Homo sapiens: one gene and its partners. The protein of the gene in region 1 purifies or fractionates together with the protein of each later gene. This does not show direct contact. Each region holds a gene or a part of one and is shown in the gene's direction. Other genes may lie near its edges. The genes, in order: MALT1, QKI, USP9X, CYLD and MAP3K7.

Region 1 (5,056 bases):
GTTTTTCTACAAAAAGTTATGCAGTCTGTATGTTCAGAGTGCATTTAGAATTGACATCTATCTCTCTCTTATTTTTCCTCTTTTCAGGGTTATTATATTATGCAGGACATGGTTATGAAAATTTTGGGAACAGCTTCATGGTCCCCGTTGATGCTCCAAATCCATATAGGTCTGAAAATTGTCTGTGTGTACAAAATATACTGAAATTGATGCAAGAAAAAGAAACTGGACTTAATGTGTTCTTATTGGATATGTGTAGGAAAAGGTAAGTTTTCTAATCTTTATTAAAGAATTGTTGGAGTTAAATATCGACCATGACAAACTAGAGAAACCTGTGAAATGCTAAAAGCCATTTGCGTTTGTGAATTTTAGTTTATACATTGAAACTGGAAGAACAAAACTAGAGGAAAATACATTTACTCCATGTATATCTAATTATTTTAACTCTTCATATTTGCTATAGAACACAAATGAAGAACTAAAGGGCATGGGCATTTACTCACACTACAGGGGATTCAACTCTCCAGAATGCCTTTAGATGACTTTAATAATCACTATAGTTATTCCCTCAGGAATTAACAAAACCAACACCCATGGAGTTGGGATCTCTGCTCACTAGTCAGTCCTGGTCTTCCAGACATGGAATGAGTAGCCGAAGCAGATGTTTGGAGGTTTGGATCCCATTTGTCTGCCATTGCCTTTCTAAGGAGTAGAACCAATGACTGTTCCTCTAGATTTACTATTTTTTTGCTTGCTCAGCATTTACCAATCAAAATCCAATGCCAGAGTTCAAATGCAACTCTAGTTTTAAAGCTAACAAGGAGTTAGTGGGTTATTTTGGGTAGATATGTAGCTACCTAGATGAAAAATTTTGAATCTATAATTTTAAATTATGTATTCTAAAAAACTGTTGTATTTTCTCATTATTTATACCCTTTTAAGAATGCTCTTTAACTTTTCATATTTCTATCTGCCCTCCTCCGCCTCCCTTAAATAGAAATGACTACGATGATACCATTCCAATCTTGGATGCACTAAAAGTCACCGCCAATATTGTGTTTGGATATGCCACGTAAGAACATTTGATGTTTACGTTGAAGTTTCCTTTATTGTTTGATGTCTTTTTGTTTTTGCTTTTTAGGAGCAGGGGTCTTAACTCTGTCACCCAGGCTGGAGTGCAGAGGCGCCATCATAGCTCACTGCTCCTGGGCTCAAGCGATCCTCCTGCCTCAGCCTTCTGAGTCGCTGGGATTACAGGCATGTGCCACTGTGCCTGGCCCCTGAGGGTTTTTTGATTATAGATTAGAGGCCTAGAAAATACCTATAGACATGTAGGCATAAATTTACCTCCTTGATATTCTGCGTAGAAAATTTTAAATGATCGACTTTAGCATTCCATATCATGGTATCTTAATTATTAAGCCCAAATTGGGCATGTAATTCCTGCTTAAAGATTAACTCTTTAATTATCAATGTCATGTGAGAGGCAGAAGAGAAAATGAAGCTTATTGGTGTATACAGAAGTCCCATGTGGCAAGTGTTTGCTTTTCTAACATTTTCTTTTTAAAAAATTATTTTTATTGGATATTGACAAGTTATAATTGTATGTATTTATGGGATACAAAGATATGCTATGATGTACGTATTCAATGTGGAATGATTGAATCAAGATAATTCACATATCACCTCAAATACTTATCTTTTTTCCTAACTGAAACATTGTACCCTGTGACTAACAGTCCCCACGCTGTCCCCACCCCCCCCCAGCCTCTGGTAACCACCATTCTGCTGGGTGCTTCTCTGAGTTCATTTTTATTAGCATCCACATATAAGTGAGAACATACAGTATTTGCCTTTCTGTGCCTGGCTTAACTTCTTTTTCTATTTTTAAGGTGTCAAGGAGCAGAAGCTTTTGAAATCCAGCATTCTGGATTGGCAAATGGAATCTTTATGAAATTTTTAAAAGACAGATTATTAGAAGATAAGAAAATCACTGTGTTACTGGATGAAGTTGCAGAAGGTAAAATAAAAAATAAAGAGAAAAGTACTCAGAAAAAGGAGAGCAGGGGAGACACACCTATTCAGGGTTCCCTCTCTGGTGATTGTTTTATTCTTATTATGTGGGTTTGGAATTAGTACCTACTTTATAAAACAATTTTTATATTAATATAACGTTCAGCAACACTTCTGCTATTTAATGTCATCTTTCCTTCCCTTTTGACCTAGCTCTCCACCATCTGTGCAGCATTACTCAGACTACAAGGCTAAGCCTCGGCACAGTCATTAATAAAGTTGAATTCTCAGAGCTCTACTTTGCTTCTATGCCCAGTGCCTTGGTACTGGCAAATCTCCCTATTTGAGGGTGGGTGGGTGGCATGGAGGGGTGGTGGGGAATTGTCCAGTGAGCAGTCTCTCCCAGGATGGGAGAGAGAAAACTTTACAGAAATTTTTAGACACTGCTGGGAAAAGCTGAGTTCATTTTTTTCCCTGATGAACTTAGTAGTTTTTAAATCCTGATTTAAGGATGTGATCCTAGGGGGTCTAATGCCACATCTTCCATTTCTATCTGTTCTCCCTGCCTGCTGGTATAATGCTGTGCATATGTCAGATGCTGAACAAGTACCTATTATTTCAGTAGATTGCACTGTGTTTTTTGAAAAAACATTTTATAAGCCATAGCAAAAAGAAGGTAACTTGGCCAGGTATGGTGGCTCAAGCCTGTAATCCCAGCACTTTGGGAAGCTGAGGCAGGAGGATCACTTAAGGCCAAGAGTTCAAGACCAGCCTAGGCAACATAGCGAGACCCTGTCTTCAAAATAAAAAATAAAAATAAAAAAGAAGAAATTATTTTACAAACTAGCACCACTAGAAAATGGAGTTTCATGGATGTTCCAGTGATGGCAGTTTGGGTATAAGGTGTTTGACCAACTGTCAGCCATATTTATTTTCATGTTTTTATCTGTGTAGCTATTTTAGATCACTTGACTTAGCCACTTTTCCATTTAACATAACCAGCCAGGGCTTTGGACTTCCTGCCACCCTCCCGCTTCATCCAGAGAAGTTCCACTTTTATTTGTTTTCTACATTAGGCTTCTTCTGAAGCTTACATTTGAAGGAAAGGCTCTGCTGCTTTAAAAAAAAAAAAAGAAAGAAAGAAAACCTTTGGATTATGTCAGTTATATTCAAACTGAGATCCAGTAAGGTGCTCCAGAAACTCTACAGTGTTTTATTTCAATTTCGTTTTTAAGTCCATTTTAACTATTTTAAAACTTAATAAAAAGCACCATGCTCACTCACATATGATATTTACCAAATTGTCATAGCAATGAATGGCATCCCGATATGTGCTGTGAGGATATTTGAACTTCTTATAAACATCTTAGACAGTTTTGCTTTTCGCTGATCTTTTTCAGTCCTACCATGTCTGCTTAACCAGAATTGCCCAGGCAGGAAGACCCTGTAGTGTACATGGAGCACACTCAGCTCAGTGCCGTGCACATTGTGCCCTTCGTGGGTAACGGCCCACTCATTGTACAAAATAAGTAAAGGCCTAATAGTATCATGATAAATAATACAGTTAAATCTAGCCCTTATTTTGAGTTTTGGATGCTTTGTGTCTGACCCCTGTCTTAGTAGTAAAGAGCAAAAGTAGTTGTATGAAATTTTTCACAAGTCATCCAATTTTGAAACAAAACTTTGCTGTTTCTCCCTTTGGATCTTCCAGATTACTTAATTGAAACTCATTCCATGGCTGGGCATGGTGGCTCACACCTGTAATCCCAGCACTTTGGGAGGCTGAGGTAGGAGGATTGCTTGAGCCCAGGAATTCAAGACCAGTCTGGGCAACACAGCAAGACCCCATCTCAATTTAAAAAAAAAATTATTTGGGGCCAGGTACAGTGGCTCATGCCTGTAATCCCAGCATTTGGGGAGGCTGAGGCAGGAGAATCACTTGAACACAGAAGTTTGAGACCAACCTAGGCAACATTGTCAGACCCCCCATCTCTATAAAAATTTAAAAAATTAGCCAGGCATTATGGTGTGCACCTGCAGTGCCAGCTACTCGCGAGACTTAGGTGGGAGGATTGCTCGAGCCTGGCAGTTTGAGACTGTAGTAAGTATGACCACACCACTGCTCTCCAGCATGTGTGACAGAGCAAGCCCCATCTCAAAAAAAAAAAAAAAGAAAATTCCAGAGGGAGAAAAGTATTCACAGATTATAAGCCAAGCAGTTGAAGGGGAAAATAAACATGTTACCAATTTCTTTTTTTAATTTTTTGGTTTCTTTGTGTGAGACTACAGAGTCTCTGTCGCGCAGGCTAGAGTGCAGTGGCATGATCTTGGCTTACTGCAACGTCCACCTCCCAGGTTCAAGTGATCCTCTTGCCGCAGCCTCCCAAGTAGCTGGGACTAAAGGCACACACCACCACGTCCGGCTAATTTTTGTATTTTTGGTAGAGATAGGGTTTCGCCATGTTGGCCAGGCCTGTCTCGAACTCCTGGCCTCAAGTGATCCACCGGCCTCAGCCTCCCAAAGTTCTGGGATTACAGACGTGAGCCACCACGCCCGGCCCACCTTACCAATTTCAACTGTGTGCAAGGAAAACAAAATATGAGGTAAATTGGTTGTTATAATGCTACAGCCATCAATCTGTAACGTGACTTTTATTTTTGTACTATTCAGGACAGCATTATTATTAGAAGTGTTGAACATACTACTGAAGGTTTTCATTGTGAGTAGATGTTCGATATGAATATAGGACCTTGAAGTAACCTACATCTAATTATAGGACCCCTCTTCTCCCTTCCCCCACTCCATGATAACTACCATTCTAAACTTATTCCTTTTTCGTTTTACATAGTTTTATTGAGTTTATATATACCCAAAAAAGTATGCGTAGTTTTGTTTTTAACTTCATAAAAAGGTATTATGCTCTATGTAGTCTTTTGGGACTAGATTTTTTTGGTTAATATTATGTTGCTAAGATTGATCCCTATTGTTGCATGACTGTAGTTTTTAACTGCTACGTAATATTCTGTTATGCAAACATACTAC
Region 2 (5,056 bases), on another chromosome or scaffold:
CTCCATTTACCCTGATGTGATTAATATGCATTATATGCCTGTATCAAAATATCACATGTACTTTATATATACATACACCTACTGTGTGCCCACAAAAACTTAAAAAAAAAAAAAGAAATATCGTGACTGGATATTGCACTTAAGATCTTGGGAGTCCACTGCATGTGAATTTTGCTTCCATTTTTTAAATGATTCTTGAATATAGGGCAAATACTTAGGAAACCAGAAGCTATGAGATTGCGGATAATCACTTGAGTTCAGTATTACAAAATATGATTTTAATGACCCATTTTACAAATGTAAAAGTTAGTGTTCTGTCTCTGTAGAGTTGCTCATTCCCGATCAAGGTTCTGCAGGATACTTTGTGAACTATCTGGAGTTGACATGTACAACTTCAGGATGCCCTGTTTGATCAGTTGTAATTTTTGAGAAAAAAAGAGGTCAGAAAAACTGGTCTGAAGACTGGCTCATAGAAGCTCTAGAGCCTCTAGACTGTAGAAGAAACTTAGTTTTCTCATCTGAACTTATATTTGAAAAAGAGGTGATATATACCTTCAACAGTGTTTAGGCAGGTACGTACTACCAAATCTCATTGTCAAAACCAGGACAGTAACATTGAAATAACCACTTCGATGTGAAAGTAATTCTATAATTAACCCTGTTGTCTCTTCTTTTTTTTTCTTTTTCTTTTTTTTTTTTTTTGAGACAGTCTCGCCCTGTTGCCTAGGCTGGAGTGCAACGGCGCGATGTCGACTCACTGCAACCTCCGCCTTCCAAGTTCAAGCGATTCTCTTTCCTCAGCCTCCTAAGTAGCTGGGATTACAGGCACCTGCCACCACGCCCAGCTAATTTTTGTATTTTTAGTAGAGACAGAGTTTCACCATGTTGGCCAGGCTGGTCTCGAACTCCTAATCTTCATGATCTGCCCACCTCAGCCTCCCAAAGTGTTGGGATTACAGGCGTGAGCCACCACACCCGGCCAGTGAACCCTGTTGTCTCTTAAGACACACAAGATCATGCCCTGTGAATACAGAGTGGAGGGGAGTGGTCAGGACATGAGGGTGAAGCCCATCCTGGACTGAGACCACCTAGAATCAAATTCCAGCTCTGCCAACTAAATCCTGTGCATTTCTGGGAGGCATTAGTGTACCCTGCCAAAATGTGGCTGTGATCTGGTGTAACATACCATCACCTCCAGCAACACCATATGGCAGACTACACCAGGATCTCCTCCTATGCCACTCTTATTTTTATTCTCTTAGGGTGATCTCTCCTGTTTTCATTATCCTGCACCCTGCACATTACACAAGTGTGCACACACAGTGGTAATCACACACATTTCTTCCATCTTTTTTCTCTGTGGTTTTCTCCCTTGTTTGACACTCCATTGCCAAATAATGAATAGCTATTTTGCTATCCAAAAGGAGCAGTTCAGTGCCAACATGTTTTCAAGCACCTGCCCTTCTGCAGGAAACTCGTCTTTCGTCTTTATTTCCTCTTTGTTGGAAGTAAATTTGCCCTCTTATTTGCTGACATTTTCAAACTTGTACCACTTCTTTCTCGCTATGGTAGATGACTGGAGGTAAACCTACTGCTCTTCTTTTTCTTTTTTTATGTAGAGTATAATTTATAATACTTTTGGTATTCCATTTTTATATATAAATTTAAATTTGAAACTTTTGATAAGTTTTAATTTTCAAATGACTAGTTTTTAGCAAATAAGTTGAAGTTTTATTATAATGGATTTGATTCTTCTTTTCCAATAGTAGCTTACTTATTTCGTTTTTAACAAATAATTTCTGTGTCTTTCTAAGATCATACTTACTTTTTGTTCATCTTTGTACAAGTTGATAGGAGTCAAATTCTACAGGCATGCCAGTATCCACTCCCTGTAATCTTCTGCAAAGTAGGTTTTTAAAAAGTTGGCAGTAGCACATCAAAACATTGTCTTTATGTTTCACTCATATTTTTCTTTAATTCTTGTGATTTACTAAAAGCTCACTGAACAGTTCTGTTTACTATATATTATAGTATACCATTCACCATTGTAATGCCAAAAACAGAATTTTGTGTGTCATTACAGCTATAATAGAAAGGAGCACTGAGAAGCCTGTGTCCTGGTCGTCCTTCCCGTTTTATGAATCAGAGAGGAACAAGACTATGTCAGAAAATTGTTGCATTGTGTTACTTTCATTGTAAATATCACAAAGTCATGTAAAGTTACTGGGATTCGATGATACATAAAAGTGGGGGGCAGTTAGTTCTATCTCTACACAGACTTTGATAGATGGACCCTCATCTACTGCTTGCTTTGACTGTGGCTAAAGTTTATGTTGGACTGAGACATTTGGGATTTGGAAATAAAGTTAAAGACTTCTCATACCAGTCACTTATAAGTTCTAGTAAGTAACTTGGGGGTGGCCGTGGGAACATGGGGTTAGGCAGTGGTAACAAAGAAATAAGCCCTATTCTCATGGAGCTTACTTTGGGAGTGGTGATACTCAACAGACTGTAATTTGAAGTAGAAGCAATTAACTTTGTCGATAGGTTCTTGGAGATACAACTTTAAACAAAATGAGTATATTGCAGCCTCTTTTTTCATCAATGTTATAATGAAACCATGTTGAAAGCAGTGGCATTATTTGAGGACCTGCTGTCTGTCGTTTCACTTAAAGTTAGTTTTAAAGAATGTATTGACCACATTAAGTGAGGATCTACTGTAATCTAGGGATGGCCCCTGGAGAAGGAAGGTAGCATTTAGGTTGAAGTTTGTGGGGATGGGGATAGGTAGGATTTGGAAAGAGAGAGGGGCAGAGAGTGCGCAGGGGAGCACTTAGGATGGAGGAAGTGGGAATATGCACAGAGATGAATGGTGGAGAGCAATCTGGTTTGACTTAAGATGTTACTTACATACGTGTGTAAAGTAGTAGGTTAATGGGCTTAACTTGAGAGGATATTTTGGGACCAGATTATAGGCAACTAAAGTTTTTTATATTTTTAGATAGTAAGAAACCATGAAAGTGTTTTGAGACAGAATGTTGAGAAACATGATGAAAATTGTGATTTGGGCAATTAATCTGGCCTTTGTGTAGAGATTGATTGGAGAACAGACACCATTAGCAACATGTTTTAGTAGTTTGGGTGCTATGCCAAAAACAACTGGAACAGTAAATGGAAAGAGTGGGACCAATTCAAGGTAAATGGGGTGGCCAAACATTTTGATGATTAGAGACTATCCTGATTTAGGTTTGAAGCATGGTTATTATTAGTGCCCATTTTTGCTTTTAAAAGTTTTCTGCTTTGGACAATAAATCATATGGTGACCCTAAAGATAGATTGCTGTAGCATTGATAGCACTTGCTAATTAGATTGAAAGGAGACAGGGATGGTGGTGTAAGAGAGCAGAATATACGGTTTTTTAGAAGTTATTATTTCACTGAGTTTTCATATTTTGAAGAATTAAGCATAAAATTTCCTTACCTAAATTCTGTAATCAAATCTTGTATGTTTAAAATTATTTGTGTGCACATGTGCACGCGCGTGTGTGTATGTGTGTGTTTAACGAACACATTTGAGTTTTGGAATATTCAGCAAAATGATAGTTGCTGGCTGGGTGCAGTGGCTCACACTTGTAAACTTAGCACTTTGGGAGGCTGAAGCAGGAGGATCACTTGAAGCCAGGAGTTTGAGACCAGCCTGGGCTACAAAACGAGACCTTGTCTCTACAAAAAATAAAAAAAATTAGCCAGGCATGGTGGCGCGTGCCTCTAGTCGCAGCTACTTCGGAGGCTGAGGTAGGAGGATGGCTCGAACCTAGGAATTCAAGGTGGCTGTGAGCTAGGATCATGCCACAGCACTCCAGCCTGGGTAACAGAGCAAGACCCTGTATCTAAAAACAATAAAATTAATTAAAGTAATTTTAAAATGATAGATGCTGAAGAGAATATGTTATGTTTAGTCTTATCTCACATTTTCATTCATTTCTATTTAAAAGTAAAGCTTTTTAGGGGAACTTTAATAAATCGGTGTAACTGACAAAAAATTTACAAATACAATATGCTGTATATCAACATGCCTTTACTGAGAAAACAGAGAAAGCAGGCTCCATTATGTTAGCACCTTTTGGTTCTTGATCTTTTTTTCCCCTTATTAAAACAGGTGACTGTAGTCACATGATACTTACTTTAAGGCTTGTGTGTAGATATAGCTATTATATTTGTGGACAGTCTCAAATGCTTTCATCTCATGTGTTTTCCATGTATAGGCAGAAGGAGAAGACAGCCTGAAGAAGATGCAGCTGATGGAGCTTGCGATTCTGAATGGCACCTACAGAGATGCCAACATTAAATCACGTAAGAATGAGCTCTGAGGCCCAGGGTTACTGCTGTCTGCGTTGTTTTGTCTACAGACTTTTTTCCTTTTGGCAACACAATAATAGTTCATACAAAGTGAACAGTTGAAATAACTGTTCTGTCACTTGATATGGGGCTGACAGTCCTATTTTTAATGCTTTCATGAATTGAGGACACTCTTGATTTTATTTTATGTCAGCATGTTGAAGTTTTAGGTTGATAAACTTACATTATTTTAACAAAATCACAATCTCTAAATTCAAGTGTTTAAGAAATTTTCTGTTTGGTTAACTACAGATGTAGGGCTTGCAGCTTATCTTGTTAAATTTATGCAAAAGACAACATATTGAAAGCTTATTTTGAAAAAGTGAATTTGAAGTGTATCTGACTGAAATGACCCTCTGTTGAGTTCTGTCCTTTCACTTTGCTTGCATGTTTTCCCTCTAGTATTTTTCCCTGTTGATTTCATATGTGAGTTCACAGAGATCAGTGGGTGATAACTCTTTTTCCGTCCTATTTTTGTTTTTATGCGTATCTATGCATGTTTTTATAAGCCGTAAGAGGATAGCTTTTTTATGTTTAAAATGAAATAATGTGAAATTTATATTTTGAAACAATTTAAGATTCATACATGTCATTTATATGAACATACCATGTTTAAATTACTGATTATTTAAAACACATAGAATTTTTAAGTTCTAGCC
Region 3 (5,056 bases), on another chromosome or scaffold:
ATATTTGTAGGTGGTGATCCATGAAGACTTCATTCAGTCTTGTTTTGATCGTCTGAAGGCTTCCTATGACACATTGTGTGTTTTGGATGGTGACAAAGACAGTGTTAATTGTGCAAGACAGGAAGCTGTTCGAATGGTTCGAGTATTAACTGTTTTAAGGGAATATATAAATGAATGTGACAGTGATTATCATGAGGAAAGAACAATTCTCCCTATGTCGAGGTTTGTGAATAACTAATCTATTGGTGCTAATTCTTAATTATTTGATATTTTCCTAGCCATTTGGTAAAAGGAGAGCAGAAATTTTTCTCGTTTGAAAATTGTTGTCTTTGCCCATTAAAAACATTTTCATTTCATCTAATTTTTTTTAATAACCTCCCCCACTCTCCCATCTGGTTTTGTTTTGGTTTTTTGGGTGAGGCATTCTTAAGTTGTTTTCTAGTTTTCTTTTTGTCTTTGACATTATTACTCATTAAGTGTTGCAGTGGCATTTTGCAGTTGAAGTGTTTTTGTTTATTTGTTTATTTTGAGAAAAGGTCTTATTCTGTCACCCAGGCTGGAATGCCGAGGTGTAATCATGGCTCACTGCGGGCTCAAGCGACCTTTCCACCTCAGCCTCCCAGGTAGCTGGGGCTACAGGCACAGGCTACCACACCTGGCTAATTTTTTTTGACTTTTTGTGGAGGTGGGGTTTCACTACATTGCCCAGGCTGGTTTCAAACTCCTACGCTCAAGCAAATCCTCCTGCTTTGGCCTCCCAAAGTGCTGGGATTATAGGCGTGAGCTACAGTGCCTGGCCTGTAAAGAGCTCTTAAAAGCTGCCTTGCATGGCATATAACAAATATTTTCAAATGGTGTTTATAGTTTTGGGATGTTTTGTGTAGTCAATGCCATCATTTTTTTTAAAGAGTTTTGTTTATTAATCATGAAATTATATACAGTTGCTTCTTGAATATGATTTTTATTTTGTATTTTACTTTAAAAAAGGTACTATACCAATATAAATAGCATTTTGGAGTGAATTTTGATATGAAGGCTTTTTTCCAGAAAAAAAATAAAGTGCATTGTGGCATTTTTGTTGATGCTTTTAACAAAATGTAAAACGACCTTTTAAATGTAAAAGGTAAACTCTACCTTCTTTTTTTGAATTTTTTTTTTTATTAATACAAGGTCTACCTATGTTGTCGAGGCTGGTCTTGAACTCCTGGGCTCAAGGGATCTTCTTTGCTTGGCCTCCCAAAGTGGTAGGATTACAGGCATGAGCCACTGCGTCCAGCCAACCTTTTACATTTAAAAATAGTCTTAGTGAGTTGGGCTTTTACAGCATAAAAATAAGCGTTATATCTTGGATTTAATTTCATTTTAGTAGACACCTCATTTTCTGCAACCATAGATACAAGACTAACAACAATAGAATATGATTATGTTTTTAAATATTATTTATATTTTTAGTTAAAAGGAGCAATATTTTTTTTTCTTTTGCATTTCACTCTTGTTGCCCAGGCTGGAGTGCAGTGGTGCAGTCTCGGATCACTGCAACCTTTGCCTCCCAGGTTCAAGCGATTCTCCAGCCTCAGCCTCCCAAGTAGCTGGGATTACAGGCGCCCACCACCAAGCCTGGCTTATTTTCTGTATTTTTAGTAGAGATGGAGTTTTACCATGTTGGCCAGGCTGATCTCGAACTACTGACCTCAAGTGATCCACCCGCCTCGGCCTCCCAAAGTGCTGGGATTATAGGCATGAGGCACCATGCCTGGCCTTATTTTCAAGATACTGAAAGTAATACAGGTTGAGTATCCCTAATCCAAGAAATCCAAAATTTGTCTGGTCCCAGACATTTCATATAAGGGATTCTCAAGCTGTATTAAGTATCTTTAATTCACATCCTCTTGTTTAATAAGAAAATACTTAGTGTTAAATCCCCAGCATTATTTTCTTGGCAACAAAATTTCAGAGTCTGCTGAATATGATGATGTCTGTCTTTCTTTTTCCCCCCAGAGCATTCCGCGGTAAACACCTCTCTTTTGTAGTTCGATTTCCAAACCAGGGCAGACAGGTTGATGACTTGGAGGTATGGTCTCATACAAATGATACAATTGGTTCAGTACGACGATGTATTCTCAATCGTATTAAAGCCAACGTAGCCCATACAAAAATTGAGCTCTTTGTGGGCGGTGAGCTGATAGATCCTGCAGATGATAGAAAGTTGATTGGACAATTAAACTTAAAAGATAAATCGGTATGTATGTATAGTTAACAGATTTTTCAATAAAATCAAACCAGAGACTATCGTTTAATCAGTAAATACTAATTGAGCATTTGTTATGTTTGGGACTGTGTTAGGTGTTAGAGTTATAGCATTAAAGTATAGCATGTAGTCTTTCGGATTTTTTGGTTGGTATATCACTAAGTTTTGTGTTTTGTGTAAGTATTTTTCCTTGTTTTTGATATTAACATAGTATATAATTTTCAGCTTATTACAGCCAAACTTACACAGATAAGTTCCAATATGCCTTCAAGCCCTGATAGCTCTTCTGATTCCTCCACTGGATCTCCTGGAAACCATGGTAATCATTACAGTGATGGTCCCAATCCAGAAGTGGAAAGCTGTTTGCCTGGAGTGGTGAGTAGATACAGTTTTGAACTACTGTATGTAAGGCATCATGCTAGGGTTTTTGAGAATAAAGTATATAGAGTGGTTCTTTCTTTTCTTGAGGAGCTTACAGTTTAATGAGACAAAAAAATACAGTTAACCACCAACTTCAGAATGGATCCCTCTAAAAGGTAATTGTAACACAGTTGGAATTTAAAACATAATTTCCCCATAGGTATAGTATTGTTACTTTTACATAAAATTAACCAATTAGAGCTTAATTATAACACTATTGGATGTATAAATTTAGAGGAAAACAGTCATCCCTCGTATACGTGGAGAATTGGTTCCAGGACCTCTGCATATACCCAAAATGCTGCAGATGACCCTGTGCAACCAGATATACAAAAAGTTAGCCTTCCATATACTTGGGTTTTGCTTGCTGGAAATACTGAATTTTCTGTCCACATTTGATTGGGAAAAAAGTCTGCATGTAAATGGACCTGTGCAGTTCAAACTTGTGTTGTTCAAGAGTCAGCTGTATCACTTTCTAAAATTTATACCACAAAACGGATAGTTCTTTTAGAACTATATATGAGCTGGGCATGGTGGCTCACACCTGTAATTCCAGCTACTGGGGAGGCTGTGAGGCAGGAGGATTGCTTGAGCCCAGGAGTTCTAGGCTGCAGTGAGCTGCGATTGTGCCATTATGCTCTAGCCTGGTCAACAGAGTGAGACCCCATCTCTAAAAATATAAATAAATGAAAACAAGAACTATGTAGGAAAATACCTGTAATCTTTATCAGATTGTCAGTAACATATAGCCAAAGAAATATTTTTAAGCTCTCCTTTCGCCCCTCCCGACAGAAATTTTAATGGTTACAATAGTAGCAGCCACTCCAGTGTCAGGAGGATTTGGCTCTCTATAACAACTGGATTAAGAATTTGGTAGTGGGCATGGCAGCCTTTTGTTATGTCCAGAGTCTAAATTGTATATATGAGAGAAATGGTTTAATAGAACAGGAGAGGAGCTATCACAAAAAAATGACTGGAAGTGACTTGATGATGTATTTGATCTGCACTATTAAGGATTTGTAGGGATTAAAAGATGGGAAAGTCAGACTATTTCAAAGAGTAGAAATTTCATAAGTAAAAGTATAGGGATTAACACAGAGAAACTTACTTGGGCTTTTATAAAACGGGAGTAAATAATTTAGAGGTAATTATTTTGTGTATTTTATATTCTAGATAATGTCACTGCATCCCAGATACATCTCTTTTCTTTGGCAAGTTGCAGACTTAGGTAGCAGCCTAAATATGCCACCCCTTAGAGATGGAGCAAGAGTACTTATGAAACTTATGCCGCCAGGTAAGAATTTTTAAATGATGATCAAGTACTTGCTGGACAATAAAGGAGTATATTAGCAAATTCTGTTTCTAAATGGACCGTGCTTTTTGGTATAGACTATAACAAGAGTTGACAGATGACAGCCCACAAGCCACATCAAGCCCCCTGCTTGTTTTTGTGCATCCCAAGAGCTATATTTTTAAGTGGCTACAAAAAAAAAATCTAGAAGAATAATATTTTGTGATACATGAAAATTATATGAAGTTTAAATTTTAGTGTCCATGATCAAAACCAGGCTCATTTGTTTACATTCAGTCTACATGACTGCTTTTGTCTTAAAATAGCACCGCCCAGGAGTTGTGGCAGAGGCCATATGGTTCACAAGCCTAAACTGCTTAACTTTCCTGGCCCTTTACAGAAAATGTTTGCCTATACCTGGACTATAATATGGGTCATGTGTCATCTGCGGTATTGTTCCTTTTTTATCCTTAGAAACAACCACTTCCAACTTCTCGCTTTTACTTTAGTATATATATGTACCATTATGTCTGGAGTGTCCTCATACAGCTATTTCTTTGTTACTTACAGATATATACTGATTTTCTGCTGTGTAGATGAAAACTTAACTGTTACATACCCCCACATCCTCCCAGTATTTGCTTAAATCCAGATTCAACATCTACGTTTCCAAGATTGTTTGAAATATAGTTCTCTAGATCACTGACAACTTTTATCCTGGATTTAATAATTTCCCTTTTATTTTCCTGATTGTACACCTATCACTTATTCTTCCCACATACTTTTTTTTGAGATATTTTTTATCTGAATGTGGGCAAACTATCACGTTTGATTAATGGTTTGTGTATAGAATCCTAGGTTTGAAAATATATTCCTTCTGGCTGGTGGCATTGCTGATGAGAAGACCAAAGTCCTCTTGGTTTCTATTCCTTTGCATGTGACCTTCGTTTCTGGAAGTTTTGGTTTTATCCTTACGTTTTGAAATATTATGATGTGCCTTAGCGTTAAGTCTGTTTTGTGGTGCGTCACCTGTGGGCCTGGAGATTTCCTCAGTTGAGAGAGATTTGTATTCTTTGATAGTTTTCTCACCAGCATTT
Region 4 (5,056 bases), on another chromosome or scaffold:
CAATGGAATAGATATACAGAGGGTATCTGGGAAATCTTTGTGCATGTCTCAAACAACATAACTTGCAGTAAAGCCATTGGCTGTTATGTGCTGTATTTCTTTTAGTAGGTAAAGGCAGTCATAAAACTACTGTCTTTAAAAAAACGATTTTCAGTAGCAGCACTGCTGCCCTCATATATGCAATTTTTTCCAAAGTGGAACAACTTAAGATTTTTTTTTTTTTTTTTTTTTTTTTTGAGACAGAGTCTCACTCTGTCCCCCAGGCTGGAATGCAGCGGCACAATCTGGGCTCATTGCAACCTCTGCCTCCCAGGTTCAAGCGATTCTCTTGACTCAGCCTCCTGAGTAGCTGGGATTACAGGTGTGAACCACCACTTCTGGCTAACTTTCTTTTTTGTATTTTCAGTAGAGACGGGGGTTTCACCACGTTGGCCAGGCTGGTCTCGAACGTCTCACCTCAAATGATCTACCCGCCTTGGCCTCCCAAAGTGCTTGGGATTACGGGCATGAGCCACCACGCCCAGCCTTAACATTGCAAGGATCTTTAAGCTCTGGAAATTGAACCAAGAATCTTTAGGCTCTGAGGATTGTAGACTGGGCTAAATTGAGAGTAGCCTGCCAGTTCTGTAGCCATATGATAAGAATTAGGAAGTTAATATGGGATGTTAACATTTTTAAAGTAGGAAGAAGAATAAAGTGGCGGCCATTTTATTTGCAGAATACTTTGACAAAAACAAACCTTGTAGCATTGATATAATATTCTTTAGATTTCCTGATAAAAATCTATATTAGCTAAATTTTCTTTTTCTTTGATAACAGCAAGTTACTGCTGTCACTCGTTTATTTTTTTGAGAAGGAGTCTCGCTGTGTCGCCCAGGCTGGAATGCAGTGACGTGATCTCGGCTCACTGGAACCTCCACCTCCCGGGTTCAAGCGATTCTCCTATCTCAGCCTCCCAAGTAGCTGGGACTTCAGGTGCACTCCATCATGCCTGGCTAATTTTTGTATTTTTAGTAGAGACGGGGTTTCACCATATTGGTCAGGCTGGTCTCAAACTCCTGACCTCAGGTGATTCACCCGTCTCGGCCTCCCAAAGTTCTGGGATTGCAGGCATGAGCCACCGCACCTGGCCTGTTAGTCACTCATAAGTGATTTTAGCATTTAAAGAAATTTATTAATGTAATAGATCTTTGCAAAGGGGCATGGGGAGAGGGAAGTGGGGCACTGAATAGTGCTTGCCTCGGGAAGTCGTTTCCAAATGCTGTCCTCTGTTGTCTGTTTGTAATTTGACTGATATTTGTAGTCTCTCTATCAACTTTTGCAAAGAAGTTTTCTTTCTTAATATTCTGTTGGCACGTTGTTATCCTTTAACACTGCCAATCTGCCGTTTGCTTTCTCAGTATTATTGGTGTTGTCCTTAACATGGAAGGATCTGTAGGTCCTGATGATTGAACCATGGGTATCTTCACAGGGGTCCTGGTACCTGTGTTAATGAAAAACACAAATTGTTATGTTATTTGTTCTCCAGACTTTACTTATTTTCCTCTTCTAATTCTGTTAAAAATCTGTTTCTTGAAAAATATGTTTACAGCATGAAGAAAATTATCCTTTTTCTTTTGCAGCTTATTTGCTTTTAGTTCTGTTCTGGACACTGTGTTACTTAGACCCAAAGAAAAGAACGATGTAGAATATTATAGTGAAACCCAAGAGCTACTGAGGACAGAAATTGTTAATCCTCTGAGAATGTAAGTAGAAAACAAATTGCTATTTTGCCTTTACATGGTGTTCTATTTGCTGTTTTCTGGTATAGTAATTAATTTATACCTTGTCTTCATGTAATAAGAGATGGGTGAAAATTAGTTCTTATGGTAAAATATTACGTTTTTAAACCTTTGGTCCTTGTACTTTTTTGCTTATTTAATTTCTTAAATGTGGCCAAGGTGTAGAACATAGCATATTCCATGAAATGATTTAACCTATTTTGCTAGAGTAAACTATAATTTAGCAATTGCAGTATGTTTAGGAAAGCTAATACATAATACTTAGGATTCTTATCTTTTGAAATAGTTTATTCCAACACTTCTGCTACAAGTAATCATGCTTATTAGTTAAATTGGTGTAGTCTAGCTTCTTAAATCTGAAAGAAAAGGAGAAAGGGAAATTCTTTATAGAATAGCTAGTGTTTAATACTTTGGACTAGCAACAGATGAGATGTATTTTAGTACCATATTTTTTGGTTAAAGGAATATATTTGGCCTCTTTCCACCTGCCTTAAAAAGGTGATTCTTTTTCCATTTCCTACTTTAGGAATTATAAATATGTCTTTTTATGGCCACAGGAAGCAATTTGTAATGGTACAAGCACAAGTGACAGGAGATATCTAGTAAAGACTTTGAATAAGTGGTAGTAGTGATATGTGATAATGTCACATTATAAAATTTAAACTATGAAGAATTAGGACCATAGATCATAAAACAAATTTGTTCATTCAGGAATATAGAGAGAAAGTGATTTATTTAAAGTCCATATTAAGATAAATTTGAATCCTTTTATATACTGTTCTTATTTATCAATTAAAGTAAAAAATAGTTTGATATCAAATTTGAACCAAAAAAGCAGAATACTCAAATACAATGAGGATTCCAAATTATCTGCTATATCACATGACTAGGAAAGTAAATTATAAGAGAATAAATTTCCTCACTTATATCTTTTGCTTTCTTTAAATTCTGTAATGATTTCTCTAATGATCTTACTCTTTAAGATAATTGTGAATCTTGATTTTCACATCAACTATTTTGTCTTATGCAAATTTTTAAACATACGATTTTTTTCCCCCAAGTAATTGATACTGGAACAAGACAGGTCAAACCCGAAACTCTAAGGCATGTTAACACCTCCTTCCTAGAAGAGAGGAAGAATAAACATTCTTTGGATCCTATTGTTCAGCCAGTTAAGAATCATAGTTAATCACACTTTCTTACCCTGTCCACGGTAAGAAACTGGTCAGATGCCCTGTTGTGATCAGGATTCCCTGTGTCTGTAGCATTCATATCTGTATATAGCTGACTGGTTTTATTTGGTGCTGAAATCTCTGCTTTTCTTCAGAGACCCTGTCTTTTTAACCTTACTCATTTTGTATTCCCAGTGGCTGACAGGTTACGTTACTATGTAAGTGGTAGATTCTCAGTCTGTATTGGTTGCAGGAAACTAATGAGTGAATGAATAGTATAAAAAGTGGATATAAAATTAGCTAGTTCTGACTTGTCCTTAGTAAACTTATGGTAGCCGCCAAGTTCTCCTCTGAAGCCATTTTTAGAATTACAAATTTAAAGTGATATTAAACTGATTGAATGTGTCTTGCATTCAGACAAAGAAGAGAGAAAATGTCATCATTATGCCAATTGGTTTGATTGCAGATTTTAGATTTTCAGTTTCTTATAAATTCCCTTTCCCATTTCCCTTGGTGGCTGTTTCACACTTCAGTATTAAAAGGATATTCTCTCTCAAAATTGTATATTCTGCTTTATAAAGTAAATGCTTTAATTTCCCAAGCAAATATTATTTAAAAAATCAGTCACAGCAAACCTAAAAATTTTTTATCTTAGTGTATGACAGTTACTTGTAGAGCATATAATAGTGTCTAGGATAATTCTGGTTCTAGATCTTTAATTTTGCAAACTTCAAGAAGAAGCTTATCATTGTTTTCTTCAAAAATAATTGTCTAACCTATTGATTTATGACATACTGGAGTTGTATAAGAAATGTGTTGGCCAGGTGTGGTGGCGCACACCTGTAATCCCAGCACTTTGGGAGGCCGAGGTGGGCGGATCACTTGAGGCCAGGAGTTCAAGAGCAGCCTGGCCAACATGGTGAAACCCTGTTTCTACTAAAAATACAAAAATTAGCTGGATGTGGTGGTGCACGCCTGTAATTCCAGCTACTTTGGTGGCTGAGGCATGAGAATCTCTTGAGCCTGGAAGGCGGAGGTTGCAGTGAGCTGAGATCGGGCCACTGCACACTCCAGCCTGAGTGATAGAGTGAGACTCTATCTCAAAAAAAAAAAAGAAAAAAAGAAATATGTGATTAAGATGTGTTATATAATTTAATACATGCCAATATCAATTAATAGTTTTTTACTAACTTAGATATGGATATGTGTGTGCCACAAAAATTATGAAACTGAGGAAAATACTTGAAAAGGTGGAGGCTGCATCAGGATTTACCTCTGAAGAAAAAGGTGACCATCTTAACTTATATGCGTTAAAAATAACTGAAGAGCATATTCACATGTCAAAGTATTAGCTGAAATGTGTGTCTGTGTAGTTGGGGGGTTTTCTTTTAAATTAGAAATTTCTTTTTATGTGATATATGGTTAGCTCCTCTTTTTGTAAATTCTTCCTCTCTTCTAAAAGTGATTGATGATGTGGAATAATGAACTCCTTTAAGAAGCTGGCTGGTTCTAGTATATTAAATGCTTAAATAAAAAGTCCTTTCCTTTCCACCTAGCAATGATATTCTCAGTTGTTTCTCTCTTGTGGTGCAGAGTTGCATTGGGTTTTCTACATTTTCCCACTGAGTCTTCCCTGTTGTAAAAGGGAGTTAGAAAGCTGCTAACTAGGATTAAGTTTATAGTCAGGGAACAGTGTTATAATCTCTTCCTAGCTAATGGGCTTACTCAAAGATTCACCACCTGACTTTGAATTTGTCAGCAGCATACTGTAAACAGCTGTAATGTTCAGAGGCTTGCAGGAAAAAACAGAGCATACTTCAGATTGTACTCCATTTACCTTAACCCCTCCAAAGGAAATAACAGCTATTTCATTATGTGCAATGTGTTACACCCTTTCAAATGTAATAAACTCACAACAAAATTGAAACATAATACTTGATTATAACTTATTAAATGTCTTTTATGTTTTTCCTTTGTCAGGAAAACTTGAAAACTGTGCTTTTAATTGAAATAATATTGGATGAATGAAACTGAATTCAGTATTAAAATTTGACTGTTAGAAATGAAAAATAAAATGATTTAAAAATTTTGCCTGTGACTTAT
Region 5 (3,932 bases), on another chromosome or scaffold:
TTCCCCATTTCCATGGTTTTATTTCTGCATAATACATAAAGTATACAATGAAATCTAAGGGGATATTAAATATAGTGTTATATCCTAAATTTTATAGTAAGATTTAAATCTTCTATGCTTCTAAGCATATGTACAGTTGATCCTCATTGTTCACCAATTTCTTAATTGCAAAATTGCCTATTTGCTAACATTTATTTGTAACCCCAAAATTAATACTCATGGTGCTTTCATGGTTATTTGCAGACAGTGCTTTCATGTACTCGCAGACAGTGTGCATGCGCTGAGCAGTGCAAATTTTGAGTCATCTAACGCATGCTTCCAGCTGAGGTTGAACAAGACAACGTTTTTCCGTCTTGTTTCAGCTCTCATGCTGTAAGCAGGTGTCCTTTTTTGTGCTGTTCAGAGCCCTTTTTCATTTTTGTGATTTTTGTTGGTAATTTTGCTACTTAAAATGGCCCTCAAGCATAGTACTGCCTAAGTACAAGAAGGCTATGATGTATCTTAACAGACAATATACATATGTTAAATTATCTTCATTCAGGCATGAGTTACAGAAATGTTGACTATGAGTTCAATGGTAATAAATCAACAGTATATATGAATAAGGTGTCTTTAAGCAGAAATACGCATGAAACAAGGCTATATATTGATCAGTTGACAAAAACATGGTGACCAGAGGCACACAGGAACCTACCCCTGTATTTTCCTTAGGAGCAGTGATTCAGTGTTCACTAATTCAGTGTTCTCAGAAACTTTATAGAACATAAATACCAGGAATAATGAGAATTAACTGTGCTTTTGTATTGGTTTCCTAGCAATTAAAAATTGAGAGCCCTAAAGTTTAAATGAGGATGCCTTAAAAAGAATGCAAATAGCTGGGCGCGGTGGCTCAGGCCTGTAATCTCAGCACTTTGGGAGGCTGAGGTGGGCGGATCATGAGGTCAGGAGATCGAGACCATCCTGTATAACACGGTGAAACCCCATCTCTACTAAAACTACAAAAAATTCGCCGGGCGTGGTGGCGGGCGCCCGTAGTCCCAGCTACTCGGGAGGCTGAGGCAGGAGAATGGTGTGAACCCGGGAGGCGGAGCATGCAGTGAGCCGAGATCGTGCCACTGCACTCCAGCCTGGGTGACAGAGCAAGACTCCATCTCAAAAAAAAAAAAGAATGCAAGTAATTGGACAGAAATAAGATACTAAGAATTACAAATAAATGTCAAGCTTATATGTTTACCTTCTTTTATACCTCCATATGTCACTGAAGTTTTAAAAGAGTTGTCTGTAAATTATATGCTAGGTTTCTGTATAAAAACATCAAATTATCTTTTAAATGAAAGAAGTTGAACTGAAGGTATGTGATTTGTATGTTAGGAAGTGTAAATGCCCATAAAATTCAGATACATTCAGTTAATCAGACTCTGGTTATAGCTTATTTCTTTCAGTTTTGATGACTTTAAAGGGTTTTCTGTTTGTTTTTAGCCACCCCAGAGGAAGAGAAATTGCAATGCAACTAGTCACCTGAGTGGAGCTCTTTTGCCCTAAAATTCAATTTAGTAATAAATGAATAATCAGGTGTTATATTACACAAGATTAAATAATGCCTCCTGTTTCATATACAGAATGTATACATTTGACATTGTTTTAAAATTATTTACTTATTTAATATACCTTTATGTGAGTTAAAATGACCCAATGTTACTGTATGTGGAGAGCAAAAAGATTTGTTTATACAAAAGATTAATTTTATTGCTCTAGACAACCCTTAATTGTCTAGAGCAACAAAATGCAGACTGTTAGGCTGTGTAAGTTTCTTCATTTCTGAAAGATGTCAGTCAACCTGTAGCCCAAATTAGACTGTAGCATGGTTGTAGTGCTATATTACAGTGTACTGCTTAGCATGTAAAGCTATAGCTATAATAATTGTTCATTCTTACAGTGAGTTGAGTGTTTGTTTGTTTTTGGGAGATTATGACGGGTGCTTATTGTGCTGGCTGATTCAACCACCTACTTAGTTTGTAAATTTTGCTGTGTAACTCAGGTTATCCATAATTTTCGTTACTTACAACGTAATGTTTAAGTTTATAAATTAAGAATTTCCCTTCACCATATATTGAGGAAAAAACTGTAACACTAAATTAGAAAGTTCTTCTGCTTTGATAGCAGAGTAGTGCTGTCTGTCAGAGTGGGAAGAAAATTTAAGATTAAAATGTAACAGAAAGGAGGCCAGGCACAATGGCTCATGCCTGTGATCCCAGCGCCTCGGGAGGCCAGAGCAGGAGGATCAGTTGAGCCCAGGAGTTTGAGACCAGCCTGGGCAACATGGCAAGACCCCATCTCTACAAAAAATTTAAAAAATTAACCAGTTGTGCCAGCGCATGCCTGTAGCCCCAGCTACTCAGGAGGATCACTTGAGCCCAAGAGTTTGAGGCTACACTGAGCTCCAGCCTGGATGAGAGTGTGAGATCCTGTCTCAGAATAAAATAATAATAAACAACATAAAGGAATGTACAGATGTTTCATACTCTGCCCCAGAGAAAGTATCAGTCTAAATACATAAAAGTCAAGTCCTGTGCCTCTTGATGAAAAAACTGCCTCTTGATGAAAAAAGATAGAAAATAACTGAGTTTCTGAAGTAGTTTTTTAGTGTATTGTTGATACTTAATTCATTTAAAAATGTACTTGTTGAAAAGACAAAGTACTTCAGAAAGAGTAGTTTCTTAGTTCTACATGTGACAGCCTCATTTTTATCCCTGATACCCATTCTCAAAATTTAAGCCATTGTTTCTGTAAGTCATGTGGAAAAATAGTCTTTAGGTTATATACTACCTTTTTTTTTTCTAGGTAGTAATTACAGTGAAAAATGTGACGTCTTCAGCTGGGGTATTATTCTTTGGGAAGTGATAACGCGTCGGAAACCCTTTGATGAGATTGGTGGCCCAGCTTTCCGAATCATGTGGGCTGTTCATAATGGTTCGTAAAAAGAAATTTTTCTTAAAAGTACTTTTTGTGTTTTCTACTTGGAAGACTACTCCTGTCCCCTTCCCTAAAGAATATCATTTATCTCTAACATTAAAATGTACAATTCTTTGTTAAGAGACTGCTTTGCTATTATCAGACTCTGCCCTGTCCCTGCCCCAGAGTCCAGCAGAGCAGGATTGAGAGTAGTCCTGGTCTACACATGCGGCTGAGGATGTTCACTGGCTCCGCTGATTAGGGAAAGGCCATCAGTACGCAACCTAGACAGTTGGCTCTCTCTTAGGGAGAAGCATCAGGCTGGATCATGGAAAAAATAAAAAAATACATACATAAAATCTCTGACATGGTTAATATAACTGGAGAGTTATAGCCCTTTTCTCCTGAAGAAGCAAGGGCCTCATCAAGGAGAAGAAGCAAAGAATAATAATGCTTCACATATTTTTCCTGTTTATATTCTCACCCACCCTTAGAAGGTGAGTACTGTTGCCTCATTTTACAGATTAGGAAACTGAGGCCTAGAGAGGTTAAATAACTTGCTTAAGGTCACAAGATTAGTAAGTGGTAGAGCTGGGATTCAAATCCAGATGCTTCTGACTTGAATGCTCATATCTTAAGTCATATTGACTTATGGACTCAATGTCCTTGCATCTGTCCTGTTTCTTTTATAGTTCTGGTAATGTTGTTTTTAACCACATATGATGTTAGAATGCATCCTCTTCATTAGTAAAGTTACTTTACATTTGCTTGGGAAAATAGCTTTTCATGAAGGAAAATTACTTACCTTCTTAATTTTAGCGCCACTCTTAGTTATTTCATTTCTATGCCTTGTTTATAATCATGTGACTAATGGCCATTTTTTACATTATTCCACAAGTCTAAAAACAAATGTCTGCCTAATTATTTAGGTCATTCATAGATTTATCAAACAGTACCATCATCTGAGTAATCTTAGCTGT

Evidence for each region.
Region 2: the proteins of MALT1 (region 1) and QKI purify together in Homo sapiens (co-immunoprecipitation; one study listed by IntAct). This does not show direct contact.
Region 3: the proteins of MALT1 (region 1) and USP9X purify together in Homo sapiens (affinity purification with western blotting, with the first as the bait; one study listed by BioGRID). This does not show direct contact.
Region 4: the proteins of MALT1 (region 1) and CYLD purify together in Homo sapiens (affinity purification with western blotting, with the first as the bait; one study listed by BioGRID). This does not show direct contact.
Region 5: the proteins of MALT1 (region 1) and MAP3K7 purify together in Homo sapiens (affinity purification with western blotting; 2 studies listed by BioGRID and IntAct, with this or other methods). This does not show direct contact.

The regions. Positions count from the first base shown.
Region 1 is NC_000018.10:58,733,310-58,738,365, forward strand, and holds part of MALT1 (mucosa-associated lymphoid tissue lymphoma translocation protein 1), read left to right. Parts: intron 1-87; coding exon 88-265; intron 266-572; exon of another isoform or gene 573-671; intron 672-997; coding exon 998-1,072; exon of another isoform or gene 1,073-1,078; intron 1,079-1,892; coding exon 1,893-2,020; intron 2,021-5,056. UniProt on the Homo sapiens protein: Protease that enhances BCL10-induced activation: acts via formation of CBM complexes that channel adaptive and innate immune signaling downstream of CARD domain-containing proteins (CARD9, CARD11 and CARD14) to activate NF-kappa-B and MAP kinase p38 pathways which stimulate expression of genes encoding pro-inflammatory cytokines and chemokines.
Region 2 is NC_000006.12:163,557,718-163,562,773, forward strand, and holds part of QKI (KH domain-containing RNA-binding protein QKI), read left to right. Parts: intron 1-4,264; coding exon 4,265-4,352; intron 4,353-5,056. UniProt on the Homo sapiens protein: RNA reader protein, which recognizes and binds specific RNAs, thereby regulating RNA metabolic processes, such as pre-mRNA splicing, circular RNA (circRNA) formation, mRNA export, mRNA stability and/or translation.
Region 3 is NC_000023.11:41,167,997-41,173,052, forward strand, and holds part of USP9X (ubiquitin carboxyl-terminal hydrolase 9X), read left to right. Parts: intron 1-10; coding exon 11-222; intron 223-1,998; coding exon 1,999-2,239; intron 2,240-2,473; coding exon 2,474-2,623; intron 2,624-3,841; coding exon 3,842-3,962; intron 3,963-5,056.
Region 4 is NC_000016.10:50,782,707-50,787,762, forward strand, and holds part of CYLD (ubiquitin carboxyl-terminal hydrolase CYLD), read left to right. Parts: intron 1-1,152; exon of another isoform or gene 1,153-1,483; intron 1,484-1,622; coding exon 1,623-1,745; intron 1,746-4,132; coding exon of another isoform or gene 4,133-4,148; coding exon 4,149-4,240; intron 4,241-5,056. UniProt on the Homo sapiens protein: Deubiquitinase that specifically cleaves 'Lys-63'- and linear 'Met-1'-linked polyubiquitin chains and is involved in NF-kappa-B activation and TNF-alpha-induced necroptosis.
Region 5 is NC_000006.12:90,552,496-90,556,427, reverse strand, and holds part of MAP3K7 (mitogen-activated protein kinase kinase kinase 7), read left to right. Parts: intron 1-2,841; coding exon 2,842-2,970; intron 2,971-3,932. UniProt on the Homo sapiens protein: Serine/threonine kinase which acts as an essential component of the MAP kinase signal transduction pathway. Plays an important role in the cascades of cellular responses evoked by changes in the environment.